2 separate regions of the Homo sapiens genome follow, and region 1 is linked to region 2. The links come from fine-mapping of genetic effects on gene expression. A gene starts in region 2. The other region holds a variant in brackets. All regions are shown on one strand. Distances are between the middles of the regions.

What was found.
Region 1: its variant is fine-mapped to the expression of ABHD12 in whole blood (TOPMed, PIP above 0.99).

The regions. Positions count from the first base shown.
Region 1 is chr20:25,329,457-25,334,836 of GRCh38, reverse strand. The region is part of intron 2 of ABHD12 (abhydrolase domain containing 12, lysophospholipase); the gene reads left to right. Among named protein-coding and RNA genes, the nearest start is that of ABHD12, 59 kb to the left of the region's middle. RefSeq lists an enhancer at 4,046-4,567. The variant G/A (reference allele first, on the strand shown) is at 3,234.
Region 2 is chr20:25,388,099-25,393,478 of GRCh38, reverse strand. ABHD12 (abhydrolase domain containing 12, lysophospholipase) reads left to right here and starts at 2,644. Exons shown (of 13, transcript NM_001042472.3): 1 at 2,644-2,966. The coding sequence starts at 2,776. RefSeq lists silencers at 2,515-2,934, 2,975-3,024, 3,065-3,224, 3,395-3,554.

The sequences.
Region 1 (5,380 bases), 59 kb after region 2:
AGGTCTAACGTTTAAGTCTTTAATCCATCTTGAATTGATTTTTGTATAAGGTGTAAGGAAGGGATCCAGTTTCAGCTTTCTACATATGGCTAGCCAGTTTTCCCAGCACCATTTATTAAATAGGGAATCCTTTCCCCATTGCTTGTTTTTCTCAGGTTTGTCAAAGATCAGATAGTTGCAGATATGCGGTGTTATTTCTGAGGGCTCTGTTCTGTTCCATTGATCTATATCTCTGTTTTGGTACCAGTACCATGCTGTTTTGGTTACTGTAGCCTTGTAGTATAGTTTGAAACCAGGTAGTGTGATGCCTCCAGCTTTGTTCTTTTGGCTTAGGATTGACTTGGCGATGCAGGCTCTTTTTTGGTTCCGTATGAACTTTAAAGTAGTTTTTTCCAATTCTGTGAAGAAAGTCATTGGTAGCTTGATGGGGATGGCATTGAATCTGTAAATTACCTTGGGCAGTATGGCCATTTTCACGATATTGATTCTTCCTACCCATGAGCATGGAATGTTCTTCCATTTGTTTGTATCCTCTTTTATTTCCTTGAGTAGTGGTTTGTAGTTCTCCTTGAAGAGGTCCTTCACATCCCTTGTAAGTTGGATTCCTAAGTATTTTATTCTCTTTGAAGCAATTGTGAATGGGAGTTCACTCATGATTTGGCTCTCTGTCTGTTGTTGGTGTATAAGAATGCTTGTGATTTTTGTACATTGATTTTGTATCCTGAGACTTTGCTGAAGTTGCTTATCAGCTTAAGGAGATTTTGGGCTGAGACAATGGGGTTTTCTAGATATACCATCATGTCATCTGCAAACAGGGACAATTTGACTTCCTCTTTTCCTAATTGAATACCCTTTATTTCCTTCTCCTGCCTAATTGCCCCGGCCAGCACTTCCAACACTGTGTTGAATATGAGTGGTGAGAGAGGGCATCCCTGTCTTCTGCCAGTTTTCAAAGGGAATGCTTCCAGTTTTTGCCCATTCAGTATGATATTGGCTGTGGGTTTGTCATAGATAGCTCTTATTATTTTGAGATGTGTCCCATCAATACCGAATTTATTGAGAGTTTTTAGCATGAAGGGTTGTTGAATTTTGTCAGAGGCCTTTTCTGCATCTATTGAGATAATCATGTGGTTTTTGTCTTTGGTTCTGTTTATATGCTGGATTACATTTATTGATTTGCGTATATTGAACCAACCTTGCATCCCAGGGATGAAACCCACTTGATCATGGTGGATATGCTTTTTGATGTGCTGCTGGATTAGGTTTGCCAGTATTTTATTGAGGATTTTTGCATCAATGTTCATCAAGGATATTGGTCTAAAATTCTCTTTTTTGGTTGTGTCTCTGCCCGGCTTTGGTATCAGGATGATGCTGGCCTCATAAAATGAGTTAGGGAGGATTCCCTCTTTTTCTGTTGATTGGAATAGTTTCAGAAGGAATGGTACCAGTTCCTCCTTGTACCTCTGGTAGAATTCAGCTGTGAATCCATCTGGTCCTGGACTCTGTTAGGTTGGTAAGCTATTGATTATTGCCACAATTTCAGCTCCTGTTATTGGTCTATTCAGAGATTGAATTTCTTCCTGGTTTAGTCTTCGGAGGGTGTATGTGTCGAGGAATATATCCATTTCTTCTAGATTTTCTAGTTTATTTTCATAGAGGTGTTTGTAATGTTCTCTGATGGTAGTTTGTATTTCTGTGGGATCAGTGGTGATATCCCCTTTATCGTTTTTTATTGCGTCTATTTGATTCTTCTCTCTTTTCTTCTTTATTAGTCTTGCTAGTGGTCTATCAATTTTGTTGATCCTTTCGAAAAACCAGCTCCTGGATTCATTAATTTTTTGAAGGGTTGTTTGTGTCTCTATTTCCTGCAGTTCTGCTCTGATTTTAGTTATTTCTTGCCTTCTGCTAGCTTTTGAATGTGTTTGCTCTTGCTTTTCTAGTTCTTTTAATTGTGATGTTAGGGTGTCAATTTTGGATCTTTCCTGCTTTCTCTTGTGGGTATTTAGTGCTATAAATTTCCCTCTACACACTGCTTTGAATGTGTCCCAGAGATTCTGGTATGTTGTGTCTTTGTTCTCGTTGGTTTCAAAGAACATCTTTATTTCTGCCTTCATTTTGTTATGTACCCAGTAGTCATTCAGGAGCAGGTTGTTCAGTTTCCATGTAGTTGAGCTGTTTTGAGTGAGTTTCTTAATCCTGAGTTCTAGTTTGATTGCACTGTGGTCTGAGAGATAGTTTATTATAATTTCTGTTCTTTTACATTTGCTGAGGAGAGCTTTACTTCCAAGGATGTGGTCAATTTTGGAATAGGTGTGGTGTGGTGCTGAAAAAAATGTATATTCTGTTGATTTGGGGTGGAGAGTTCTGTAGATGTCTATTAGGTCTTCTTGGTGCAGAGCTGAGTTCAATTCCTGGGTATCCTTGTTGACTTTCTGTCTCGTTGATCTGTCTAATGTTGACAGTGGGTTGTTAAAGTCTCCCATTATTAATGTGTGGGAGTCTAAGTCTCTTTGTAGGTCACTCAGGACTTGCTTTATGAATCTGGGTGCTCCTGTATTGGGTGCATATATATTTAGGATAGTTAGCTCTTCTTGTTGAATTGATCCCTTTACCATTAAGTAATGGCCTTCTTTGTCTCTTTTGATCTTTGTTGGTTTAAAGTCTGTTTTATCAGAGACTAGGATTGCAACCCCTGCCTTTTTTTGTTTTCCATTTGCTTGGTAGATCTTCCTCCATCCTTTTATTTTGAACCTATGTGTGTCTCTGCACGTGAGATGGGTTTCCTGAATACAGCACACTGATGGGTCTTGACTCTTTATCCAATTTGCCAGTCTGTGTCTTTTAATTGGAGCATTTAGTCCATTTACATTCAAAGTTAATATTGTTATATGTGAATTTGATCCTGTCATTATGATGTTAGCTGGTTATTTTGCTCATTAGTTGATGCAGTTTCTTCCTAGTCTCGATGGTCTTTACATTTTGGCATGATTTTGCAGTGGCTGGTACCGGTTTTTCCTTTCCATGTTTAGCGCATCCTTCAGGAGGTCTTTTAGGGCAGGCCTGGTGGTGACACAATCTCTCAGCATTTGCTTGTCTGTAAAGTATTTTATTTTTCCTTCACTTATGAAGCTTAGTTTGGCTGGATGTGAAATTCTGGGTTGAAAATTCTTTTCTTTAAGAATGTTGAATATTGGCCCCCACTCTCTTCTGGCTTGTAGAGTTTCTGCCGAGAG[G/A]TCTGCTTTTAGTCTGATGGGCTTCCCTTTGAGGGTAACCTGACCTTTCTCTCTTGCTGCCCTTAACATTTTTTCCTTCATTTCAACTTTCGTGAATCTGACAATTATGTGTCTTGGTGTTGCTCTTCTCGAGGAGTATCTTTGTGGCGTTCTCTGTATTTCCTGAATCTGAATGTTGGCCTGCCTTGCTAGATTGGGGAAGTTCTCCTGGGTAATATCCTGCAGAGTGTTTTCCAACTTGGTTCCATTCTCCCCGTCACTTTCAGGTACACCAATCAGACGTAGATTTGGTCTTTTCACATAGTCCCATATTTCTTGGAGGCTTTACTCGTTTCTTTTTATTCTTTTTTCTCTAAACTTCCCTTCTTGCTTCATTTCATCTTCCATCACTGATACCCTTTCTTCCAGTTGATCGCATTGGCTCCTGAGGTTTCTGCATTCTTCACGTAGTTCTCGAGCCTTGGTTTTCAGCTCCATCAGCTCCTTTAAGCACTTCTCTGTATTGGTTATTCTAGTTATACATTCTTCTAAATTTTTTTCCAAGTTTTCAACTTCTTTGCCTTTGGTTTGAATGTCCTCCCGTAGCTTGGAGTAATTTGATCGTCTGAAGCCTTCTTCTCTCAGCTAGTCAAAGTCATTCTCCGTCCAGCTTTGTTCCGTTGCTGGTGAGGAACTGCGTTCCTTTGGAGGAGGAGAGGCGCTCTGCTTTATAGAGTTTCCAGTTTTTCTGCTCTTTTTTTTCCCCATCTTTGTGGTTTTATCTACTTTTGGTCTTTGATGATGGTGATGTACAGATGGGTTTTTGGTGTGGATGTCCTTTCTGTTTGTTAGTTTTCCTTCTAACAGACAGGACCCTCAGCTGCAGGTCTGTTGGAGTACCCAGCCGTGTGAGGTGTCAGTCTGCCCTTGCTGGGGGTTGCCTCCCAGTTAGGCTGCTCGGGGGTCAGGGGTCAGGGACCCGCTTGAGGAGGCATTCTGCCCGTTCTCAGATCTCCAGGTGCGTGCTGGGAGAACCACCGCTCTCTTCAGAGCTGTCAGACAGGGACATTTAAGTCTGCAGAGGTTACTGCTGTCTTTTTCTTTGTCTGTGCCCTGCCCCCAGAGGTGGAGCCTACAGAGGCAGGCAGACCTCCTTGAGCTGTGGTGGGCTCCACCCAGTTTGAGCTTCCTGGCTGCTTTGTTTACCTAAGCAAGCCTGGGCAATGGCGGGCGCCCCTCCCCAAGCCTCGCTGCTGCCTTGCAGTTTGATCTCAGACTGCTGTGCTAGCAATCAGCGAGACTCCGTGGGCGTAGGACCCTCCGAGCCATGTGCGGGATATAATCTCCTGTTGTGCCGTTTTTTAAGCCAGTCGGAAAAGCACAGTATTCGGGTGGGAGTGACCCGATTTTCCAGGTGCCGTCTGTCACCACTTTCTTTGACTAGGAAAGGGAACTCCCTGACCCCTTGCGCTTCCCGAGTGAGGCAATGCCTTGCCCTGCTTTGGCTTGCGCACGGTGCGCGTACCCACTGACCTGCGCCCACTGTCTGGCACTCCCTAGTGAGATGAACCTGGTACCTCAGATGGAAATGCAGAAATCACCCGTCTTCTGTGTCGCTCACGCTGGGAGCTGTAGACTGGAGCTGTTCCTATTTGGCCATCTTGGCTCCTCCCTCAACACAATTCCATGCATTTGTTTTTAAAGCAAAGGGCCAGCTTCCTCTTTTTCCTTCCCCTGAGCAGTCCCTGTTGACTCCTGTTACCTTTCTTTTCTTATCCCCTTTTTTCATACGGAAGGTCCTGTAAGCCTGCATCAGGTAATTGGAATTTGATAAAACCCAAATAACCAACCCAGGCTTTCCCTTGACACCACACCTCTTATGGCTGCCGGTATCAAGGCTGCTCTGTTACTCACAGTGATTGGAATGAGACTTAGCCCCCTGTTCAGACCCTCAGCACTCAAAGACCATCACAGCTCAGTAAGTTTCAGCCTTTCCCGCAACAAATATTTTGCAGGTGAGCTAAAAGAAGTATGACAGAGCAGGTCGTTTTCCATTCACTCACATTCTCACTTCTTCACCCTCCACGGCACCCATGTGTGCAGGATCCATTCTCCATCCTGCCCGTTGATGTTTGTGGTTGCTGGTACATGATGACGTGACTGGAGGG
Region 2 (5,380 bases):
TTTTTTTTGGTTTGTTTGTTTGGTTTTTTTGAGTCGGAGTCTCACTCTGTCGCCCAGGATGGAGTGCAGTGGTGCGATCTCCGCTCACTGCAAGCTCCGCCTCCCGGGTTCACGCCATTCTCCTGCTTCAGCCTCCCAAGTAGCTGGGACTACAGGCGCCCGCCACCATGCCCGGCTAATTTTTTATATTGTTATTAGAGAGACGGGGTGTGAAACCGTGTTAGCCAGGATGGTCATGATCTCCTGACCTTGTGATCCGCCCGCCTCGGCCTCCCAATGTGCTGGGATTACAGGCATGAGCCACCGCGCCTGGCTGTTTTTTTTTTGTTGTTGTTGTTTTTTTAATTGAAGTGAGCGATAGAGTCAAAACCTCTTTTTTTTTTTTTACGTTTTAGTTATTTCCTAGATTTCCAATCTCTCCAGGATGTGTTACTACATCACTATAAAGAATTTATAATTTACATTCCATAGTATGTTTGTTTGTTTATTTTGAGATGGAGTCCTGCTCTGTCACCCAGGCTAGAGTGCAGTGGTGCAATCTCGGCTCACTGCAACCTCCGAATCCCAGCATCCCGGGTTCAAGCAATTCTCCTGCCTCAGCCTCCCAAGTAGATGGGATTACAGGCGTGCGCCACCACACCCAGCTAATTTTTTTGTTTGTTTGTTTTTGAGAGGAGTCTCCCTCTGTCGCCAGGCTGGAGTGCAGTGGCACAATTTCGGCTCACCACAACCTCCGACTCCCTGGTTCAAGCGATTCTCCTGCCTCAGCTTCCCAAGTAGCTGGGAATACAGGCACGCGCCACCATGCCCAGCTAATTTTTTTTTTTTTTTTTGAGACAGAAGTTTGCTTTTGTCCCCAAGACTGGGGTGCAATGGTGTGATCTCAGCTCACTGCAACCTCCGCCTCCCAAGTTCAAGCGATTCTCCTGCCTCAGCCTCCCAATTAGCTGGGATTATAGGGTTGTGCCACCATACCTGGCTAATTTTTGTGTTTTTAGTAGAGACGGGGTTTCACTACATTGGCCAGGATAGCCTCAATCTCCTGACCTCGTGATCCGCCCGCCTCGGCCTCCCAAAGTGCTGGGCTCACAGGCGTGAGACACCTCGCCCAGCCTTTTTTTTTTTTTTTTTTTTAAACAGAGTCTTGCTCTGTCACCCAGGCTTGTGCCACCACACCCGGCTAATTTTTGTATTTTTAGTAGAGACGGAGTTTCACCATGCTGGCCAGGCTGATCTGGCCTCCATCTCCTGTGCTTAAATGATCCACCCACCTCCGCCTCCCAAAGTGCTGAGATTACAGGCATGAGCCACTGAGCTCGGCCCATAATGTTTTTAAAAAGTATATCTGGAGATATTGACACAATTATGAATGCAGGCTGTAACACTTAGTAATATGGTCAATAAATTATTTTGCAATTTCAAAGTATCATTACAAAACTAATTTAAAAAGCAGCCGGGCGCGGTGGCTCATGCCTGTAATCCCAGCACTTTGGGAGGCCGAGGCGGGCGGATCACGGGATCGAGAGATCGAGACCATCCTGGCTACACAGTGAAACCCTGTCTCTACTAAAAATACAAAAAAATTAGCCGGGCATGGTAGCCGGCGCCTGTAGTCCCAGCTACTTGGGAGGCTGAGGCAGGAGACTGGCGTGAACCTGGGAGGCGGAGTTTGCAGTGAGCCGAGATCGCGCCACTGCACTCCAGCCTGGGCGAGAGCGAGACTCCGTCTCAAAAAAAAAAAAAAAAAAAAAGAAAAAACTAATATAAAAAGCTGTTGAATTTCTAAACGCATTTCCAATTGACCTTTATCAATTGCCAATAGTTTTCAAAGTGACAAATGCTGAAATTTCTAACGTTACTTTGGAATAAGCAAATATCTCTCTTTGTTATAGATCATCTGTAAAACTAATGCCATATTGAAGAAAGCCAAAGTTATAAAACTAAATTTGTGAAACAGCCCTTTATTCTTTCCTTTTCTCTTTCTAGGATGGGTTGAATTAGTACTAAATTTGGGTTTCATAAGGGCGAATTTATCTTTGAAATGGATTTTCCTCCCATCAGGTAGTCTTAATTGCTTTATAAAAATCTAAAATCTAACACAGGTTTTTAAAAAGTAAATTTTTCAAGCAGTTCATTTCCTGATGTTCGGCCCAAAAGTAAACACTGAGTATATACATTTACTTCAAATTAAAAACTGACGACCGGAAAGCATACTTTTAAAGGTAATGTCCTTGTGGAAAAAGAATTAAGAATCACGAGAACGGAACTGCTATTTGCTACCTCTGGTTTTCCGTTCACAGAAGCACGAGGAGCCCAGCGCTGCGGCTCTGCCTCGCTGGGCCACCCCTTTCGGGCACGACCGGGAGCGGGTGCTCCTCACACCGAGCGCCCGGGCGAGCACAGCTGCAGCCTGCGGATGGAGCCCAGAGCCCTGCCCTGCAGATGACGCGCCGCTGCAGCTTCGCCCACCCTCCCACAAAATGGCTGCGGGTGGCGCCAGGGATGCTGGGCGCGCGCTCCTTGGAACTAGAGAGGAGGTGGCCGGGGCGGGGCCGGGGGAGGGGGGTAGGGCAGAGCCGGCGGGAGCCCGGCGCTGATTGGCCGGCCTGGCTGGCGGGCCCCCGCCGCTGGTTCGTAGCCGGCGCAGCGGCCTGGGCTGGGATGTGAGGAGCGGCGGGTTCCGGGCTCCGGGCTCTGGGTGGCGGCGGCTGTGAGCGGCGGCACTGCGGCGCAGGCCAGCGGGCGCCGTCGGCGGCTGGCCCTGTCGGCCGCGGGATGAGGAAGCGGACCGAGCCCGTCGCCTTGGAGCATGAGCGCTGCGCCGCCGCGGGCTCGTCCTCCTCCGGCTCGGCCGCCGCGGCGCTGGACGCCGACTGCCGCCTGAAGCAGAACCTACGCCTGACGGGCCCGGCGGCGGCTGAGCCGCGCTGCGCAGCCGACGCGGGAATGAAGCGGGCGCTGGGCAGGTGAGGCTTCGCGCGGAGCGGGGGGGGGGGGGGGGCCGGTCCCTCACTTTGCGCAGGTGCGTCCCGCAGGGGGCCGCGGTACCTCCCAGCCCCTCCCAGAGTGGCCGTCCGCCCGATCCGCGGCCGCCCCCGTCCGCGCCTGTGTCCCGCATTTGGCCCGCGGCAGCCCCACCCCCGCTCCCTTCCCCAGGCACCGCGGCGGGAGCGCCCTGCCCTGCCGCTGACCCCCTGTGTCCTGCTCCGGCCCTCTCGCCAGGCACTCCTGGCCTAGCCTTGCACCCCGACCCTTTCCCGGGGAAGCCGGGGGGACCCTTACGCTGGGGGCTTGGCGCCGCCCGAAGTCATGACCCCGCGTGGGAGAGCAGGGTAGGGGGTGGGGAGTCCTTGGAAGATCCCTGGACGCCAGGCACAGCAGAGGCGGGAGGCAGAGGGGCCGGCGCCAGACCCTGAGAGCGCTGGGGCCCACTCGGACCTCCTCCTCCTGCTCTGCATCAGGCCCCACACCGAGCGCCCGGGCGGGCGCCCCTCGGGCTGGGCTGCGTGCGCGGAGCCTTACTGGCGCCTTGGGCCCTCGGCGGCTCTCCCCGGTAACTAGGGTCGGGGGCGTGCGTCGCTCAGAACTCGGGGACCTTTGGGGAAGGGCTCAGTGGGCGGCGGGGTGCTAGGGGAAGGAGGGACTCGGAGCATCGCAGCCGTCGGAGGGAAACCTGCCCTTCGCTCTGCTGGTGATGGTTCGTGGTACTTGAAATCTGTCCGCACAAGTTCGCCTCCTTGGGAATCATCTCGCAGTCCTGAGTCGTTTGGTTATTGGCGTTCAATAACCTTTGGGTTATTGGGTAGAAGATGAATGCGTTTATATAAAGCCACTTTCAAAACTGAGATGGGAACGTGTTTCATAGGGACAGATTTCTCCTCCCATCTGCTGGTTTCCTAATTATCTGGCTGTTGTAGAACGTAGCATTCCTGACAGCTTTGAAGCCTTGCTACTTCGTGGTGGTTTGAAGAAGTTACTATATGATGATCTCAGGCGTTGTAGCAGAGGCACTTCTTTTTTGACCATCTGGAATGCCCTTAGTTGACGCTGGCCACTTGAGTGTAAAATATGCGTATCGCTCCTAAGGAAAAGTAGAATTTCAACTTCATTGCTTAAAAAAATCATGAAATTAAACTATAGACACTTCTAAGTCGATGGTTTGACAGAAGGGCGGAGACTGATAGTTTTGTGTCTTTATGTGTAAAATTATGTAGCATCTGATCAATATCTTTTGTGAAACTAATCTGTTCTCTTTGCTATGGAAAGATTTATCTGCATTAAAAACTCATGATTTAACTTTAATACAATTTTATTAACAGACATGGCATAACGCTTAGATAAATTGGAAAATTCTTCCTTCGAAAAAATCAAATTGCCGGGCGCGGTGGCTCACGCCTGTAATGCCAGCACTCTGGGAGACCGAGGCGGGCAGATTATCAGAGGTCAGGAGTTCGAGACCAGCTTGACCAACATGGAGAAACCCCGTCTGTACTAAAAATACAAAATTAGCCGGGCGTGGTGGCGCATATGCCTGTAATCCCAGCTACTCGGGAGGCTGAGGCGGGAGAATCGCTTGAATCTGGGAGGCGGAGGTTGCGGTGAGCCAAGATCTCGCCGAACCGAGATCGCACCAGTGCACTCCAGCCTGGACAACAAGAACGGAACTCCGTCTCAAAAAAAAAAAAAAAAAAGAAAAAATCAAATTGTTTTACACAACGTTTGGGGAAACAGCGGCGACCTGGCACCTTCTTGAAGAATGTACTGTATTAAAATTACCCGATTAATTTTTATTTTCGTGTCAGGACAAAGAGAGACATTCCAGTGGTGTCCATATCCTTTGGATAAGCAAAAGGCTGTTAGGGGTAAAAAGCAAAACAAAGGGAAAGAAGACCAAATTTGTTAGGTTGTCTTCCTTCCCAGCTGGCTGTCTCAGACATCCTTGAGCTTTCTTCTCTTCCTCGCTCAGGCTCTGCGCCACCATCACCTCCTCCTCACTGAGGCCTTCTTAGACCAGCCCACTCCTGTCGACCTTGTTATCACTCGAGATTGTAATTTTTGCTCGTGTGCCTCCCCCGCAACCAGAATGGAAGCGCCATGAGAACAGGAGCTTTGTTTTCTCCACTTAAGTATCTCCAGTACCTGGCACGTAGTAGGTAGCAGAAAATACTTGTTGAATGAACAAATATCCATAGAACAGATATCCATTGCGCCACAGAGCCGGCTCGTTTGTGTCTTTTATGATCCTTCTTTGGATCCTTCCGCACATTTTTTAAACTCTTTATTGTCGACATACGTGGAAGTAGAGAAGACAATCTAATGAGCCTTCTTCATGTGTCCATCACTTAAAAGTTTTCAGTGTTTAGCCAATTTTGAATCATCC